2 separate regions of the Homo sapiens genome follow, and region 2 is linked to region 1. Evidence: fine-mapped QTL for protein levels in blood plasma. Region 1 holds a variant in brackets. A gene starts in the other region. All regions are shown on their forward strands. Region 1 has its middle 34 kb from the start of CEBPA. Region 2 holds the start of CD1C (CD1c molecule).

The links. PIP is the chance, under the fine-mapping model, that this variant and not a neighbour inherited with it causes the effect. Protein levels are from antibody-based Olink assays in UK Biobank. Linkage for the fine-mapping came from a reference panel and not from the study's own genotypes, which makes the PIPs less certain.
Region 2: it holds the start of CD1C, and the variant in region 1 is fine-mapped to the plasma level of the CD1C protein (UK Biobank, PIP above 0.99).

What each region holds. Positions count from the first base shown.
Region 1 is chr19:33,264,224-33,272,553 of GRCh38, forward strand. No RefSeq gene overlaps it. Among named protein-coding and RNA genes, the nearest start is that of CEBPA, 34 kb to the right of the region's middle. The variant T/C (reference allele first, on the strand shown) is at 4,444.
Region 2 is chr1:158,286,829-158,295,158 of GRCh38, forward strand. CD1C (CD1c molecule) reads left to right here and starts at 3,095. Exons shown (of 6, transcript NM_001765.3): 1 at 3,095-3,297; 2 at 4,306-4,572; 3 at 5,256-5,537; 4 at 5,768-6,046; 5 at 6,384-6,474; 6 at 6,627-7,946. The coding sequence starts at 3,237. The coding sequence ends at 6,648. It also overlaps a transcript of CD1B not described here. RefSeq lists an enhancer at 16-145.

The DNA of each region.
Region 1 (8,330 bases):
CCCAAAGTGCTGGGATTACAGGCGTGAGCCACCGTGCCCGGCCCAGAATGGTCGTATTATTAAATGACCACATGATCGGGCTGCTTTCCGAACTTCACCTTCCCACGGTTCTAGGAAGCAGCCACCATTATCATGGTGGCCTCCAGGCTTGCGTGTCTAGCTCCTGTCCTTCCTGCCCTCACCTCCCACACCCCTTGGCTTCCTAGCACCTGCAGTTCTGCCTCGACCCCTCCTCAGTGCCCCGGCTTTTGCAAATGCTCTCCCCTCTGCCTGGAAAACTCTCCTCCCCATGACAACTCCCATGCCTCCTATGGCACTCGGCTTTCCTGTCCTTCATGAAAGCATCCAGGGTCCCCGAGTGCCAAGCTGCAGCAGGTCCCTTGTCTCGGGGCTTCCACCCTCGAGGCGTGAGCTCCCCCTGTCACCATCCTGCCTAGGGATTATGGGTGTAATTCCTACTTCCTGCTCACCTCCTGCCAGACTGTGGGCCTGATGGGGCAGGGACCGAGCCCTCCAGTCTGTCTAGGGCCTGGCCGCACCAGGCAGTGATTGAATGAACAGATCCATAAACACACCGAGAGACACGGATGTACCCAGGCCCATGCACAGACACACAAATGCAGTCACCAGCCATGCACGGAAACTCACATTGACAGACGCTCAACCTCACAAACGTGCAAACCAAAGTTACCTAGAGACGCACGCAGTGACCAAGACACACACACGCCCACTGTCTTCTGTCTATGCTCTGGGCTCACTGCCTCTCATCCAGCCCTGCCCCTCGGGCAGGATCCCCTGCGGGTGTGGGCCTCCTGCACTGCAGCCCTGGCCTTAGCTCCAGGGGGCCAATCCCATGTTATGGGCCCCCAGCAGGATTCTCTGGGCCCCAGCCGTGGTCTTGCCACGTGACTACTTACAAGTGGCTTTTATGCTAAATGCACATAATAGCACATTGGCATAATATCATTGCCAATACTCACAGGTACCATGGTTCACACAGGGAGCATGGTGTGAAGCTCCTCTTACAGGGCTTGTTAGAGGAAAGTTCCAGCTCAGGCAAAGGCTTGGGGTGGAGCGGACAAAGCTACAGTTTGGCCTTTTCCTCAGCAGCGTCCTGCTTCTAGAATCACCACTAAAGTTAACCCAGGCGAGGGGTTCTCTCCCAGCCTCCAGGAGGCTCCAGCTGGAGGCAAACCGCCGGTCTGGGAGAGGTACAGTGGCCAGGGAGAGGAAGGGTTTCAGGGTGGTGTGGGTGGTAGGGGCTGAAGGCAGGGGCAGCAGGGCAGGGCCTGGAGGCCAGCAGCACAGAGGGTCCCCACCTGGCTTCATTTTGGGGGAGGGGGCTGGGCAGGGTATCTGGCGGAGGAAGCAAGAAGGGGTGGCCTCAGAGACTGGCTTGCGGAGATGGGGCTGCATTCCCTGTGGAAGGGAGTGGGCCTTCACGGCTTCAAGGCCGTTTGTCACCTAAAGCAGCTACGGGCATCTTCTCTCTTCCCTCTTTCTTTTTAGAGACAGTGTCTCACTCTGTCTCCCAGGCTGGAGTGCTGGGGTGCGATCATAGCTCACCGCAGCTGCAAACTGCCGGGCTCAAGTGATCCTCCCACCTCAGCCTCCTGAGTAGCTGAGACTACAGGTGGGCACCACCATGCCCAGCCAATTTCTGTATTTTTTGTAGAGATGGCTGTGTTGCCCAGGCTAGTCTCAAAGTCCTGGCCTTAAGCAATTCTCCTGCCTCAGCCTCTTAAAGCACTGGTATTAGAAGAGTGAGCCATGGCGCCCTGCCTCTCTTAAAGATGGCTTTAACCATCACTTACAGCACAGCTGCATCCCTCCTTGGCGGGGTGGGGGAGATTCTTTCCCACCTCTCTGAGTGTCCCCATCTGGGTCCTTGCTCAGTGAGAGCCAGACTTTCTGCTATAACCAGGCCCTGAATGAGAGAGAACCAGAGTCATGTGCTGTGCACCAAATGCAGTGGGAAGACACGAGGGATGCCTCGGTGACCTTCTTTTCAAACAGGAGTCTTTCCCTGGTAACCTGCCTCTGACCTTCCATCAGCCAGATGTTATCTTCCCAAGGCAACAGTGTTCCAGAATTCTTTCTGAGGTGGCCCTGGCAGCTTCTGGGTCCTTCTATTCTGATTTCCAGTTTTCTTTTTCCATTTATTTATTTATTTATTTATTTATTTATTTATTTATTAATTATAGGGTCTTGCTTTGTTGCCCAGGCTGGAGTGCAGTGGCACGAACACAGCTCACTGCAGCCTCAAACTCCTGGGCTCCAGTGATCCTCCCGCCCCAGCCTCCTGTGTAGCTGGGACTACGGGCATGCACCACCATGCCTGGCTAACTTTTTATAGAGATGGGGTCTCACTATGTTGCCCAAGCTGGTCTCAAACTAGCAGACTCAGTGATTCTCCTGCCTCAGCTTTCTGAGTAGCTGGGACCACAGGTGAGCACCATTATGCCTGGCTAATTTTTTATAGAGATAGGGTCTCACTATGTTGCCCAAGCTGGCCTCAGACTAGTGGGATCAAGTGATCCTCCCACCTCAGCCTCCTGAGTAGCTGGAATTACAGGCATGTGTCACCATACTGGGCTAGTATTTGTATTTTTTGTAGAGACAGGGTCTTGCTATGTTGCCCACGTTGTGCTTGAACTCCTGGGCTCAAGCGATCCTCCCACCTTGGCCTCCCAAAGTGTTGGGATTACAGGCGTGAGCCACTGCACCCGGCTCCAGGTGCAGTGGAGCCGGCCCAGGCCTCACCCTTTCTCCAGACCTCACATTCCCAGGCTCGTTGAAGGGAGCAGGGTGCTTCAGGCAAACTTGGGGCTCGGGTCTCCAGGCACTTGGGGTTTTCTCCTCCCCCGGCGCTGGCAGCTGGCCTGGCTTCTCTCGGCTGGAGATGCTGAAGACTCCTCGGCTGGTCTGAGAAGCATGAGAACAGAGCTGGGAAAACTGGCCGTTTTTGTGGTTTGGGGGTTTGATGCAAGTTTCACAACTGATCTCCCAAGAACACGGTCGGTCCGGTCAGATGCGCTCCCTGGCCAGGGGCCTGCTTCCCTGCTGACGCCGGTGCTGACCGCCCGAGGCGGGGGCTCCACTCGCCCTCCCCACCCCATTCCCCGCTTTCCTTCTTTAGGGAACAGCCTGGAGGTGTGGAGAAGATGGCTTTGTTTTGGGGGCTTTCGTGGTTTCCACCTCATCCTTCAGCCTGGGGAGAGCTGACGGCCTGGTACCCCTCACTCTCATCCTGGAGTTTTTCTCAGACACCTCTGGGCAGCTGTTCTTAAAGCTTTCATTTTGAGGGGACAGTGGGCCAAGGACGTCTTTTGTAGTGATAATCTTGGGCCGGGGCTGATGAGTGGGAAGTCTTAGAAAGACCTGCTCTAGGGCTCCGGGAGAGATGAGGGCCGCCAGGGAGGCACACACCTCCGTAGCCAGCCCACTCCAGGAACCCAGAGCTGCCTCCCCGGCAGACAGCTGGGCTGGGGAGGGGGTCCTCAAGACCTGGCCCTGCCTCCAAGTAGCCTGGCCCCCGGACCTATCCTTCCACCCTGGGAAGTCCCGAGCTGCCTCAGGCCAGCTGGGGCAGAACTGAAATTGGTGACATGTGCCTCTCTGGTCCCTTGACTCCCGCCCCCGCTCCCTCACCCCCAGAGTCTTCCTGAAGGAGCCTCCAGACCCAGCGAGGAGCCACAGGCAATGCCCACCCTGAGTGGGAGCTGCTGTCCTGCCTTCCACGTGGCCCCAGCCTAGCTCGCCCTTGCGTGAACTGGGAGCTGCCCCACTTCCGGAGGTTGGTGCGTGGTTCTAGATCCTGTCGTCCCTCCGCTTGGGGGCACAACGGGCTGGGACCCATGCACGTTTCTCAGACACTCCATCTCTCATCTCACAGAGCAGGAGGGGTCTGCAAAGGGCAGGCTGGTCAGGACACAGTGTGAGGCAGGGGGCCCCGGGGAACAGAGTCCAGGCTCCACCTCTGCTGAGCAGGCAGTCCTGAGTGTTGTTACCAAGTTTGGGTGAGGGCCTGGGACCCTGTCACATCACAGCTGGGGAAACGGCCAGGGCTGGGACTCAGTGGCGAACAGCAGAACCCAACAGGCGGCCGCACAGACTCACGACCAGGGGGCTCGGTCAGAGGTGGGGACAGAGGGTGACCTGGACTTGCTGAGTCAAGGAGTCAGGCCAGCGCTGCGGAGAATCCCACAGGGCTACGCTTGGGGGCCAAGGAGAGGCACGTGGCCAGGCACATCTGGGTGGACAGAGGGGTTCCAGCCACTCACAGAGCCCTCTCAGTCAGAGCCAGATAAGCCTGGGCAACTGAGCCACTCAGGCAGGGAGCGGGCGGGCATCTGAGGTCCCCAGGGAGTCTGCCCTCCTGGTGGGCACAGCTGGGCCCAGATGAGGCCCACAGCATTGGGACTGGGCAGAGACACCCAGACA[T/C]GGCTGCTGCTGTGGGCCCCAGGAAGGCCCCATATTTGGGGTGCATCTGCCGGGTGCCTGCGTCCCCTTCCCGTTCCCTATCCCTGTGCCCCCCTCCCAGCTTCCTGTTTCTGTTTTGGGGCTGCAGGAACTTCCTCTTCTCATCACGGACCAAAATGGCTTCTTGGTCTCAGCTGAAGGCCTGGCGGGGGGCTGGTCACCCCAGCCTGAAGGACAGCCACAGAGCGAGGGGGGCTCCGAGCCTCTGGGGGCGGTGACATCTGCCAAAGGGTGAACTGTGGCCCTTTCCCAAGAGACTCCCACAGCTCCTCCGATGGAGCCTGTCATGTGAGCACCTGCCCAGGCCACGGAGGGCCTGGGTCCTGCTGGAGTGACCCTAAACGGCCCCCTTGTGCCCTTCCCGCCTCACGCAAGGGACCCAAAATATGGATTGCCTGGTCTCCCCTTCCTCCTGCTCCCTCCCAGGCACATGGTGCAGACACTTACGGGCACCGTGTTGGCCTATGTGTGTGGATGAGCAAATACACACACACGGGGTAGGGGGGTGCCCTGAGCCTGTGACCCCCTGAGCCGGTGACCCCTGCCTGCCAGGGAGCAGAGCTGCAGATTCCTGGATGCCGAGGGAATAGAAGGCCTGGCCCGGCCTGGGCAGTACATGGTGAGGGTGTGTGTGTGTGTGTGTGTGTGTGTGTGTGTGTCTGGGTGAGTGTGCCTCTACGCATGTCTAGGGGGCACCATCCTTTTCCTCCCACTCCCCCTGCCCCCTTCCCCTGAGCAGAGCTGCTCCCTTAAATAAAGCTGAGCTGTGCCCTTTGGAGCCCCTGGGCCCTCGAGGGAGTGCAGGGTGACAGAGTGGGCTCCCCTTACTCCTGGGACTCCTCACTCAGGGGGAGCCTGTGGTGGGTGTTGGGGGAGGGCGTAGGAGGTGGGCACACGCCAGGGAGGGCACACAGGATGGTGGCCCCTGATCCCCTGGAGTTGTGATGCCCACAGGAGGGGTGCTTTACCAGGCTTGGGCACCCCAGGAACATCCTGGCCTTGGGATGGGGTGTGGGGGTAAATGGGGGACGGTGCTGAGAGGCCGAGCCCCGGTCTACCTCCCTGCCCATCCAGGGGTCCCGGGATGGAGTTGAGGAGCCAGATGCATCCTCTGGGGGGTTGTGGCCTGGGTCAAGGTCAGGACAGCGCCAGGGAAACTCCTGCTACCAGCTGCCCCTAGCCCCAGGCTGCCGCTGCTGTCCAGAATTCACCCAGCGTTCACTCCATGCCAGGCACCAACACGGACAGCTCCTTTAATGCCCGATGTCCATCCTTGTCACGGACAGGTGAGTACCCTGTGGCCAAATGGGCAGGAGGTTGTGGAGCCTGGCACCCACACTGCAGAGATGCCGAACTCTGGCCAGCGGCCTCCCTCCCCAAGGCCCGCTCCATGGGGAGACAGTGAGGGGAACCCACAAAGCCTGGGGTCACTGGGTCCCCCTAGCTGGCACCTAGCTTGTGCCCCCATTAGCACAGAGAGGAGGCGGTAAAACAAACACTCCCGACTGTTTACCCCAACATCTCGGGGCCATAATTAAGCTTCCTTCAATCGGGCCCTTATCAGCCCGGTATCTTGAGCAGCCTCTGACGGGGAAACATCCCGGAGCATCTAACGAAGGAAAGTTGGACGCCTTTTGAGACTTTTTAAATCCTGAAGAATAGGCCTCTGTTGCCAGCTACCCGCCTGTGGCAGCCTGCCTCATCTCTGGACTCTGCCGGCTGCCCCAGGGGCAGGGGCAGGACCAGGCGGCCCCAGCCCTGGCACCCCAGCCCTGCTGGGATGAGCCCCCAGGCCCTGCCCACCATCTGGCTCCTCCAATTGCAGTGTCCCTGCTGGCCAGCGGTGGGGTCCTGAAGGCACCCCCTCTTCTGCCCTCAATGCCCCACCTCACCCTGCCAGATGCCAATATCTGCCTTCGGCAGGCACCCTTGCCAGCCTGGGCCAAACCCAGGTGGTGGGTGGGGCTGGTGATGAAGGGTGAGCTCTCATTGCCCACAGCCCCCCATCACCTGGTTCTACAAGTTCCCCACCAACCAGGTCCAGACCTGCCACTCTCAGCCTCTGAGCTTTGCTGAAGCTGTTCTCTCCACTTGCAAGGCTTGTCCCTGCTCCTTCCTCCTGGATAATTTCTGCTTATATTTTAAGACTTAGCTTCCAGATGTGGCGGTTCATGCCTGTAATCCCAGAATTTTGGGAGGCTGCATTGGGAGGATTGCTGGAGCCCAGGAGTTCAAGACTGGCCTGGGCAACATAGTGAGACCCTATCTCTACAAAAAATTAAAAAATAAGCTGGGTATGGTGGTGCATGCCTGTAGTCCTAGCTACTAGGGAGGTGGAGGTGGGAGGACTGTTTGAGCCCAGGGGTTCAAGGCTGCAGTGAGCCACTGCACTCCAGCCTGGCCAACAGAGAGAGACTCTGTCTTTTAAAAATTAAAAGAAGACTTAGTTTGAGTATCACTCCCTCTGGGAGCCATCTGTGCATTCCAGGTCAGGCTCCTGTCTCTCCTCTGTGCCCCTCCAACTTCATGGTCTCCATGCCCCAACTCCGTGTGTGTCCCTTGGGGGGCAGACCTTGGGTATCAGGCCAGCCCTCTACCAGGCCCAGAGCAGCCTCTACAAGTGCTCAGCTTCTGTGTATTGGAGTTAAGAAAGCATGACCTGGGGATACCCATGCCGCCCAGCAGCCGACGGTAAACCTGGAGTCCTCACCGCCATGCTCTGAGGGAGGTTCTGTTCACTCCACATCATAAACCGGAAACAGCGCTGGAGCAGAGGCGACAGCTGGGTGCATGGTGGCTGGAGAGCCTAGGATACCAGGCAACAAACCTTTTCTGCAAAGGGCCAGATGGTAAACATTTTAGGCTTTGTGGACCGGACAGTCACTGCTATAGCTTTTCAACTGCTTTTGCAGGGCAAAATCAGCCATAAATGAATGGGTGTGGCTGTGTTCCAATAAAACTTTATTTATAGACACTGAAACGTGAATTTCATATCATTTTCATGTGTCATGAAATCTTCTTTAGATTGTTTTCCAATCTGGTGGCAGGCTGTATTTGGCCTGGGGACTGTAATGGGCTGATTCCTGGTGCAGGGTGAGAATTAAATATGTTTTCCCACCTGGTTCAGGGCCAGCCTGGTCAGTCCTCCCTCAGGGCCCAGCAGCTGCTCGGAGGAGGAAGCAGAGTCACTCCATCTCCAGCCCAAGTGGAGGACACAAATGAGTGAACAAACTCACCTACTATCTAACCAACTAACCAGTTAACTAAGCCCTTATCTCCTGGATTCAGAGTTACCCCCGCCTCCTCTCTGTTTTTCTGTTTTTTTTTTTGTTTGTTTGTTTGTTTGTTTTTGAAGACGGGGTCTAACTGTGTTGCTGAGGCTGGAGTGCAGTGGCACGATCATGGCTTACTACACCCTGAGCTCATGTGATCCTCCTGCCTCGGCCTCCCAGAAAGGTGGGATTACAGGCATGAGACACTGTGCCCAGTCCTGTGGGCTTCTTTAGACCCGACTGACCCCTTGTTGTCTGACCTATCTCTTTGACCCCTGGCCAGGTATCTTTTCACCCCCTCAACCTGCCCAAGGTGGTGGGAACCTCAAGAGAAGCCCATTGAGCGCCTGAAAGCTGCCGACGACCACTCACTACTGATGTGGTGTGGCCTGGCCTACAGCCTGGTACAGGCTAGCAGAGGAGATGTGTACAGCCTCAGGGCTGTGTGTGATGGGGAAGGGGGCTTTGGGACTGGGAGGGGTGTCTGGCTGCACCTGGAGAAGGGGAGGGAATGGCCAGGCAGACAGAGGAGACATTCCAGGCAGTGGAATGTCCTAGACAAAGGTGCGGAAGCGG
Region 2 (8,330 bases), not on the chromosome of region 1:
AAATACTTTTTGTTTTTTTTTCCTCACCCCTTAATCTTTCCTCTGAAAACAGACTGATTTATCTCACTGATAAATTCAGGAGGGAAACTGGGCAAGTATATATCAGCACCTCCTACTGCCCTTTACCTCTCTGGGCAAGTTGCTCCCCAAAGGCTCAGTCTTGCTCTCCTCCTCCAGGCCCTGGCTCTCACAGGAACAGCTGCTCAGGTGGGGAACTTAGGGTTTTATCAGCATTGCCTGAAATAAGTGAGTGTATTAGTCTTCTTGGGCTGTGCTAACACAAGGCAATCAGCTGGGTGGCTTAAACAACAGGAAGTTATTCTCTCACAGCTCTAGAGGCTAGAAGTTCAAAGTCTCCATCTGGAAGACTCAGTTTCTAGTGAAGGTTCTCTTCCTGGTTTATACAGACAACTGCCTTCTCACTATGAGCTCATATGGCCTTTCCATGGTGGGTGCACACACACACACACACACAGAGACAGAGAGCGACAGGGAGAGACAGAGAGACAGAGAAGGAAAGTGGAAGGGCACTCCAGTGTCTCTTCTTATAAGGACACTAAGCCTATTGGATCAGGGTCTTACCGTTTAGACATGAGATTGACATTACTTCTTAGAGGCCCCATTTCCAAATATAATCACACTGAGAGTTAGGGATTCAACATGTGATTTTTTTTTTCTTTGGGAGGGTACACAAACTTTCAGTCCATAACAATGAGAAGGCCACTCCATTTAGGGTCCAGTATGAGCAAGATCACTTGGATTACACACTTAAAGCAAATTATCTAGTGGCACTATCAGAAGTCAAGATTGACCATTAGATCCATCTATCTCATGTTATTTTCAACTTGTTTGCTTCTGAATTCAAGAGGGCAAAAAGGATGATACTTACTGGGTTTTATAATATTATCCAATATAGCTAGGTTATGTTGCAGTTATAAATAAACTTTAGAACTTGGAGGCTTAACACAATGAAGTTTATTTCTCATGCAGTTAAACTGCATGTAGATCAGGCTGCTCTTCTCCATCTCATAGTCTTGCCATTTAGAAATTTGACTGCCAAGTTGGTACCACAGGGTAAGATGATCAGATGTGATATTTTCAGTGGTCAGGACTGGAGCTGGCTAATGCTTCCAACACCACACATTCCATTGCCCAGAACTCAGTCCATGACCTTAACCCAACTATTAGGAAATAGGACAGTTGCATCTTTCCTGTAGGAACATGGAAAAAAATGTGAATAAACACATAATGTGGTATCTACTATTGTTTTCTAAAACCACAAACCAAGTATTTGCCATTAACAGCACAAGATGAGCAAAGATAACACCTAGTGCTTATGAATGATTTGGGTAGGATTTGAACTGGGTATTGCTCTTAAAGATATTATAGTTCATAGAAATTGCCACATATCTGTGGCCATGATAGGAAGAGCTCATTGAGAATGACTTCTGGCCTCACTATTAACGTTGACAAACCTAAGAAATAGTGTATATATCAAAGTATCATGTTGTACACAGTAAATACATAGAATAAATATAAATTTAAAACAGAAACAATGTTACAAATGGGATTTTCCTTTTTAAGGCACGGTCTTGCTCTGTTACCCAGGCTGGAGTACAGTGACATGAACATGGCTCACTACAGCCCTGACTTTCAGGGCTCAAAAGATCTTCCTGCCTCTGCCTCCCATTTAGCTGGGACTACAGGCATGTGCCACCACATTTGGCCAACTTTTTAATTTTTTTATCGAGATGAGGTCTAACTTTGTTGCCCAGGCTGGTCTCAAACTCCTGGGCTCAAGTGATCTTCCCACCTTGGTCTCCCAAAGTGCTGGGATTACAGGCATGAGTCATTGTGCCTAGCACAAATTCATGCCCAGATTTTAAGTGACTGCTCCAATGCATTCAGTGAATAATTAATATGATTTAAGAAACACTATAATAATAAATGTATTTCCTGGATCTCAAAAAAACTGTGTTCATGTATTTACACATATTAACCAGCCAGGGTCACTGATAAGTCACTGAATACTTCATATAAACTACTTAAATCAAACATTGACAAATGCTGCCCTTTTTATACAATGTGTTTTGGTCAGATCACAAAACAACTTAAATTTGGATTTTTGTGGTCTCCCCATGTATGAGTCCTCTTGAAAAGCTGCATGTTCTGACTATCACAATCGTATACCATTCCACACTGTACAGAATTTTCAGTATTTAGTTGAGATGCATGCTGTTCTTCCAGGACTTCAAATTATGAACTTCCCAGGGGGTTAGTCAGTCAAAATGCTGCTCTAGAGAATATAGTTCTAAGTAGATTTGTATCTGGGATTCTATACATTGAAATTAAAATCACAATGCATTTTAATTTTTTGTTTAAACATCTGCAGTTTAAAACTCTTTGATAGAAGAGATTACATTGTTAACCTCTGTGTGTTTATATGCCTAGTAAGACACTGGTATCAACCATGTACTATGTAATTTTTTAGTGAATGACTATACAGATTAAATGCAGTAGAAGGGCTTCTTTATATTTGTTATGGTCCTATGCATTCTGAATGGCTGCAATTTAATCTCTAAGGATAATGTAGAGTGGACTGTAGTTTATATAATTGTGCAGGGAAATCTTGGAAGATGTAAAAAGCAACGTCTCCAATTTATAAAAGAATCAGTGAGAATGAGGAAATAAGAAAGATGGGTGAAAAGAGGTGAAATTGGAAAGAGAAAACTTTGAGGACATTCAAAAGGGGGAAAGAAAGAATGGAGTGATGAGAAGAGGGGACACTATGGAGAGTGGAGGCAAAGTTAAGTGGAGAAACTGGAAGAACTGTGATCTATTAAAACAAGCAGGAACTGAAAAAATGACATGGTTTCTCCTTTTTATCTTACAAATGACATGCAAAATCCAGAGGGACAAAATGACCTTTCTTTCAATGCCATACACCACTTTGTCTAAGGCAGTTGAGGAAGGGAAGTAGATATAATGGAGCTTAGTGGCAGAGCAGCTGGAATCCTGAGAGAAGAGAATAACTTTAGTTCAGAGCAGGTGGGGAAATGAGAGATTGAGTAGGAGGACCAAGGTTGAGGGAAGCAGATCTTCTTAGTTGCTGTCAGCGGCTGATGGGGAAGATTGTTGGTAGAAGGAAGTCAGAATATAGGTACAGAGGGATAAGTTTGCTAAGAACAGAGATCAGCAAACAGCTTTTCTGAGAGAAAGAAACATCTGCAAATGACATGCTGTTTCTGCAGTTTCTGCTGCTAGCTCTTCTTCTCCCAGGTGGTGACAATGCAGACGGTAAGAACATCGCTGTCAGCTGCAAGGTTACATGTATCTGGGTAGAGTGTGCTGGGCTTTCCCGAGATGGATCAATAGAGATGCCAGAATGCTTGCCATCTGAGCATACCTGTCTCCAGGTCCAGTTTACTCTTTTGGAGGATGGTGGCAGAGCATGGGCTCTGTGTAAGGAAAATGTTATAGCTAAAGTAGTCATTAATGTTTCTCTGTGGTAACTGGTTCAATTTCCATTTCCTCTCCATTTTCCGTTAAAACAATCAGGGCCCAGGAAAATGATGTGGTTTCTCCTTTTTATGTTACAAATGACACGCAAGGTCCAGAGGGATGAAGCAACCTTTCAATGCCACGCACCACTTTGTCTAAGGCAGTTGAGGAAGGGAAGTAGATAAGATGGAGCTTAGTGGGAGAGCAGCTAAAATCCTAAGGGAAGAGAGTAACTTTAGTTCAGAGCAGATGGGGAAATGAGAGATTGAGTAGGAGGCCTAAGGTTAAGGGAAGCAGATTGTCTTAGTTGCTGTCAGTGGCTGATGGGGAAGATTGTCTGTTGGTAGAAGGAAGTCAGAATATAGATGTAGAGGGATAAGTTTGCTAAGAACAGAGATCAGCAAATGGCTTTTCTGAGAGAAGGAAACAACTGCAAATGACATGCTGTTTCTGTAGTTTCCGCTGCTAGTTCTTCTCCTCCCCGGTGGTGACAATGCAGATAGTATGAACATCTCTGTCAGCTGCAAGGTTACATGTATCTGGGTTGAGCATGATGGGCTTTCCCAAGATGGATCAATGAAGAAGCCAGAATGGTTGCCATTTGAGCATACCTCTCTCCAGGTCCAGTTTACTCTTTTAGAGGATGGTGGCAGAGCATGGGGCTCTGTGTAAGGAAAATGGTATAGCTAAAGTAGTCATTAATGTTTCTCTGTGGTAACTGGTTCACCTTCCATTTTCTCTCCATTTTCCTTGCCTCTCTTTTTTTTTTTTTCCTTACACTACTTGCCCTTCTTCCACCAAAAGCATCCCAGGAACACGTCTCCTTCCATGTCATCCAGATCTTCTCATTTGTCAACCAATCCTGGGCACGAGGTCAGGGCTCAGGATGGCTGGACGAGTTGCAGACTCATGGCTGGGACAGTGAATCAGGCACAATAATTTTCCTGCATAACTGGTCCAAGGGCAACTTCAGCAATGAAGAGTTGTCAGACCTAGAGTTGTTATTTCGTTTCTACCTCTTTGGATTAACTCGGGAGATTCAAGACCATGCAAGTCAAGATTACTCGAAATGTAAGTTCAATCATCTAAATTATGGGAGTTCTTTAGAATGTTCTATTTCAGGGAAATATTCTCTACTAATTTTTGGGCCATTTCCCATTATCCCATCCCACCATAAAATTCTGCATAGATGAACCTTTTAAGGGATATTCCTGATGTTGACTCCCTCAAATTTCCTAGGCTCTTGCTATTTTTGGAATTTTTTTTCTTGTGCTTTGTTATCTTCCACCTGTGGTCTCCCTCTGTATCCTACAATCCAGAGATACACAGCTGTCCCACTCTGTGCTTGACTCCCTTAAAATAAAATCTATTCCCCCATTCAATTTCTTCAAAGATCTATGTCCACAGTTCAATGACCATTATGACCAATTTCATGCGTCATGGAATGCTATCCTCCTACCTCCCTCACAAAGGCTCCCCCTTCACCCTCTATCCTATATTATGTGGCTCACCTATCATTTTTCCACATCTTCCTTGGCCACTTTTTCTTGTTAATTCAAGGCATTTATCTCTTATTGTCCCCTTCCCTATCCCCAGCAATTTTTCTCTCTTGTTTCTGATCAAATATGTCTTTGGCTCACTCTCACATCCATGTAAAACTTTCTTGCTTCACTTCCTGATACAGCCCTAGGTTTTTATACTGTTGTTTTCACTTTTTTGTTTGAACTCTTTTTCTCATTCCTCCCTTCCTCCAGATCCCTTTGAAGTACAGGTGAAAGCGGGCTGTGAGCTGCATTCTGGAAAGAGCCCAGAAGGCTTCTTTCAGGTAGCTTTCAACGGATTAGATTTACTGAGTTTCCAGAATACAACATGGGTGCCATCTCCAGGCTGTGGAAGTTTGGCCCAAAGTGTCTGTCATCTACTCAATCATCAGTATGAAGGCGTCACAGAAACAGTGTATAATCTCATAAGAAGCACTTGCCCCCGATTTCTCTTGGGTCTCCTGGATGCAGGGAAGATGTATGTACACAGGCAAGGTCAGTAGTTTCAGCCCCTTCCTCTAAGATTTTTCTATTCAAGTACTGCCCCTTCTGTTCCCACCCTTCAAACTCAGGACAAGAAAGAGGACAAGAAGCAGGGGGGTTGCTGGGTAATAGTTTCTTAGAGGCAGGAAAAAGATAACTGTGCATATTCATGTGGATGTGTGTATGTGGATGTAAGTTGTGTGTAAGTTTCTTCATCAGAACACTTTTTCTGCTCTCTGCAGTGAGGCCAGAAGCCTGGCTGTCCAGTCGCCCCAGCCTTGGGTCTGGCCAGCTGTTGCTGGTTTGTCATGCCTCCGGCTTCTACCCAAAGCCTGTTTGGGTGACATGGATGCGGAATGAACAGGAGCAACTGGGCACTAAACATGGTGATATTCTTCCTAATGCTGATGGGACATGGTATCTTCAGGTGATCCTGGAGGTGGCATCTGAGGAGCCTGCTGGCCTGTCTTGTCGAGTGAGACACAGCAGTCTAGGAGGCCAGGACATCATCCTCTACTGGGGTAAGACTGGAGGTTGGAAGTGTAGGTAGGTGGTTCTTGAGCCTAGAGGTTAGGGGAGAGGAAATTTTGAGGATAGCAGACCTAGGTGAGGGATTGTAGGAAGAAATGTATAGGGTAATTTAAAGAATAGTGGAGTAAGACCTAAGGGATACATGGATACTAGAGATTTAAGGGGAAATGAGGAATCCTTCCTTGAGTAAGTTTTGGAATAGAGTGACTGAAATAGGATAACTGATGCAACTCATCCAATGCATATGTTAAGTAAGGAAATCAATAGATGGAATAGAATCAGCAGTGAGTTTAAAATGGCATCCATGTATCTTTCCAATATGTGCAGGACACCACTTTTCCATGAATTGGATTGCCTTGGTAGTGATAGTGCCCTTGGTGATTCTAATAGTCCTTGTGTTATGGTTTAAGAAGCACTGGTGAGTTTTTTGTATTTCCTCCTCTCCTCCCAGTTTCTTATTTCACATTCCATTTTTCACTCTCTTAGCTTTTCTCTATTGACTACTCCACCTTATCCTCAGTTACCACCTCCAACTTATTCAGGGTTTCTCCCATTCCTGTTCCTTCACAGCTCATATCAGGACATCCTGTGAGACTCTTCCCCCTGACTCCCCCATTGTGTTAAGAACCCAGCAACCCAGGAGCCTAGTACAATATAGTGATGCCATCCCGTCGACTCTCCATTTAAATTGTTTCTCTTTCTGCATAATAAACATTTGTTAATAAAAACCAAATTCTAATTTGGAATGTTTTTCTTGGAATCTCCACTTTTTATATAGCACTCAACCTTCAAAGCCCATTTCTGATGTCATTTCCTCCAACGATCTTCCTTGACCCATACTGAACCCAGAGAGCCCCTCAACTGTTATGTGCATGCAACACTTCCTACCCTGTGTTGCAGCTACTTGAGTCTTTCATTTCACATTTTTAAGCTTTTAGGAGGCAAGGATCATGATAAATGTGCCTTTCCTGCATATGATAGGCTCAGTGAAACACAAAACAAAACATCATATCTAAGTTGGATTAACTGTCATGTTGACAATTTTTCTCATTATATTCCTTCCCAATGTTGTTGTAGCATTGGAAATATTCATGCTTCTCTTTTTGTTTAAATGCTTCATACCTAGCAGATAAATTCCACTCTCCTTTAGCTCCCTCATTTTCTCCTTAAACATTTAAGGAAAAGTGCAGCCTTGTGCCTTGATACACTTATTTTCTAAACACAGAGAATTACAAATGCAAATAGACAGAGAGTGTGCAAGTTACATGTGATGATCAGTGGTGCAGATATGTCACAGAATACTTAAGAAAAGGAACAAGAGATTTGGTCCTCAGGGTTGGAGTGGGATCAAGGCAACCGTTGTGCTGTATATGGAAGACAAATTTCCTAAAGGACTGTGTTATCTGAGATAGCCTTGGCTAAACTTTAGTCCCTTTAGGTTTCATTCACTAATTCAACTAATATTTTTTGGGTACTGAGTTGAGACAGGCACATACAGCTTCTAAACTGGTGGTGGATAAAACAAATGAGATTGTGTCCACTCTCCTGAAGTTGCAATGTTTGCTTCCTCAATCTGTCCATGTTTCTTTTCTATTGTTTTCATGTTTTTATTTATTTCAAAAAATTTTAAATAGATTTTATTGATGTATAATTTATAGTAAAATTTGAATCTTTAAGTGTACAGTTCTATTTATTTTGATAATTATATAAGCCCATGTAAACAAAATCACAATCAAGATATTAAATGTCATAACCCCTCATACCTGTTTGTAGTCAAGCACACCAACAACCTGGCATTCTTGCAACTACTGATATACTTTATGTCACTTAAGCTTAAACTTGTATTTTCTATGATTTTATTAAGATGGAAATAAACATATCTACTTGGTATTGCCTTTTATTTTTCTTCAGTTTAGCATATGGTTGTAAGTAATCCATGCTGCTCAGTGTATTAGTAACCATTCCTTTTCATTGCTGAATAGAATTCCATGTATGAATATAACTTTTTTTGGAGGAGGAGGTGGCTTCCCAGATCTGGCAGGGCCTTTGTCTCCTTGTGCCCACTCACCCAGCTTGGGTCCTGCTTCCATTGCTCATTTCCTTGGCACCAGGAGGCCCTAGGTGACTCTCCTGCACCCTTAGTCACCCTGTGACCTGCAGATACAGAGAGATCAATAGAGAGGATTCTAGGACACCCAGGAAACTGGGAAATAAAGCCAAAAATATATAAAATTAAACTTATTTTTGGGAGAAGAGACAAGATGGCTGACTAGA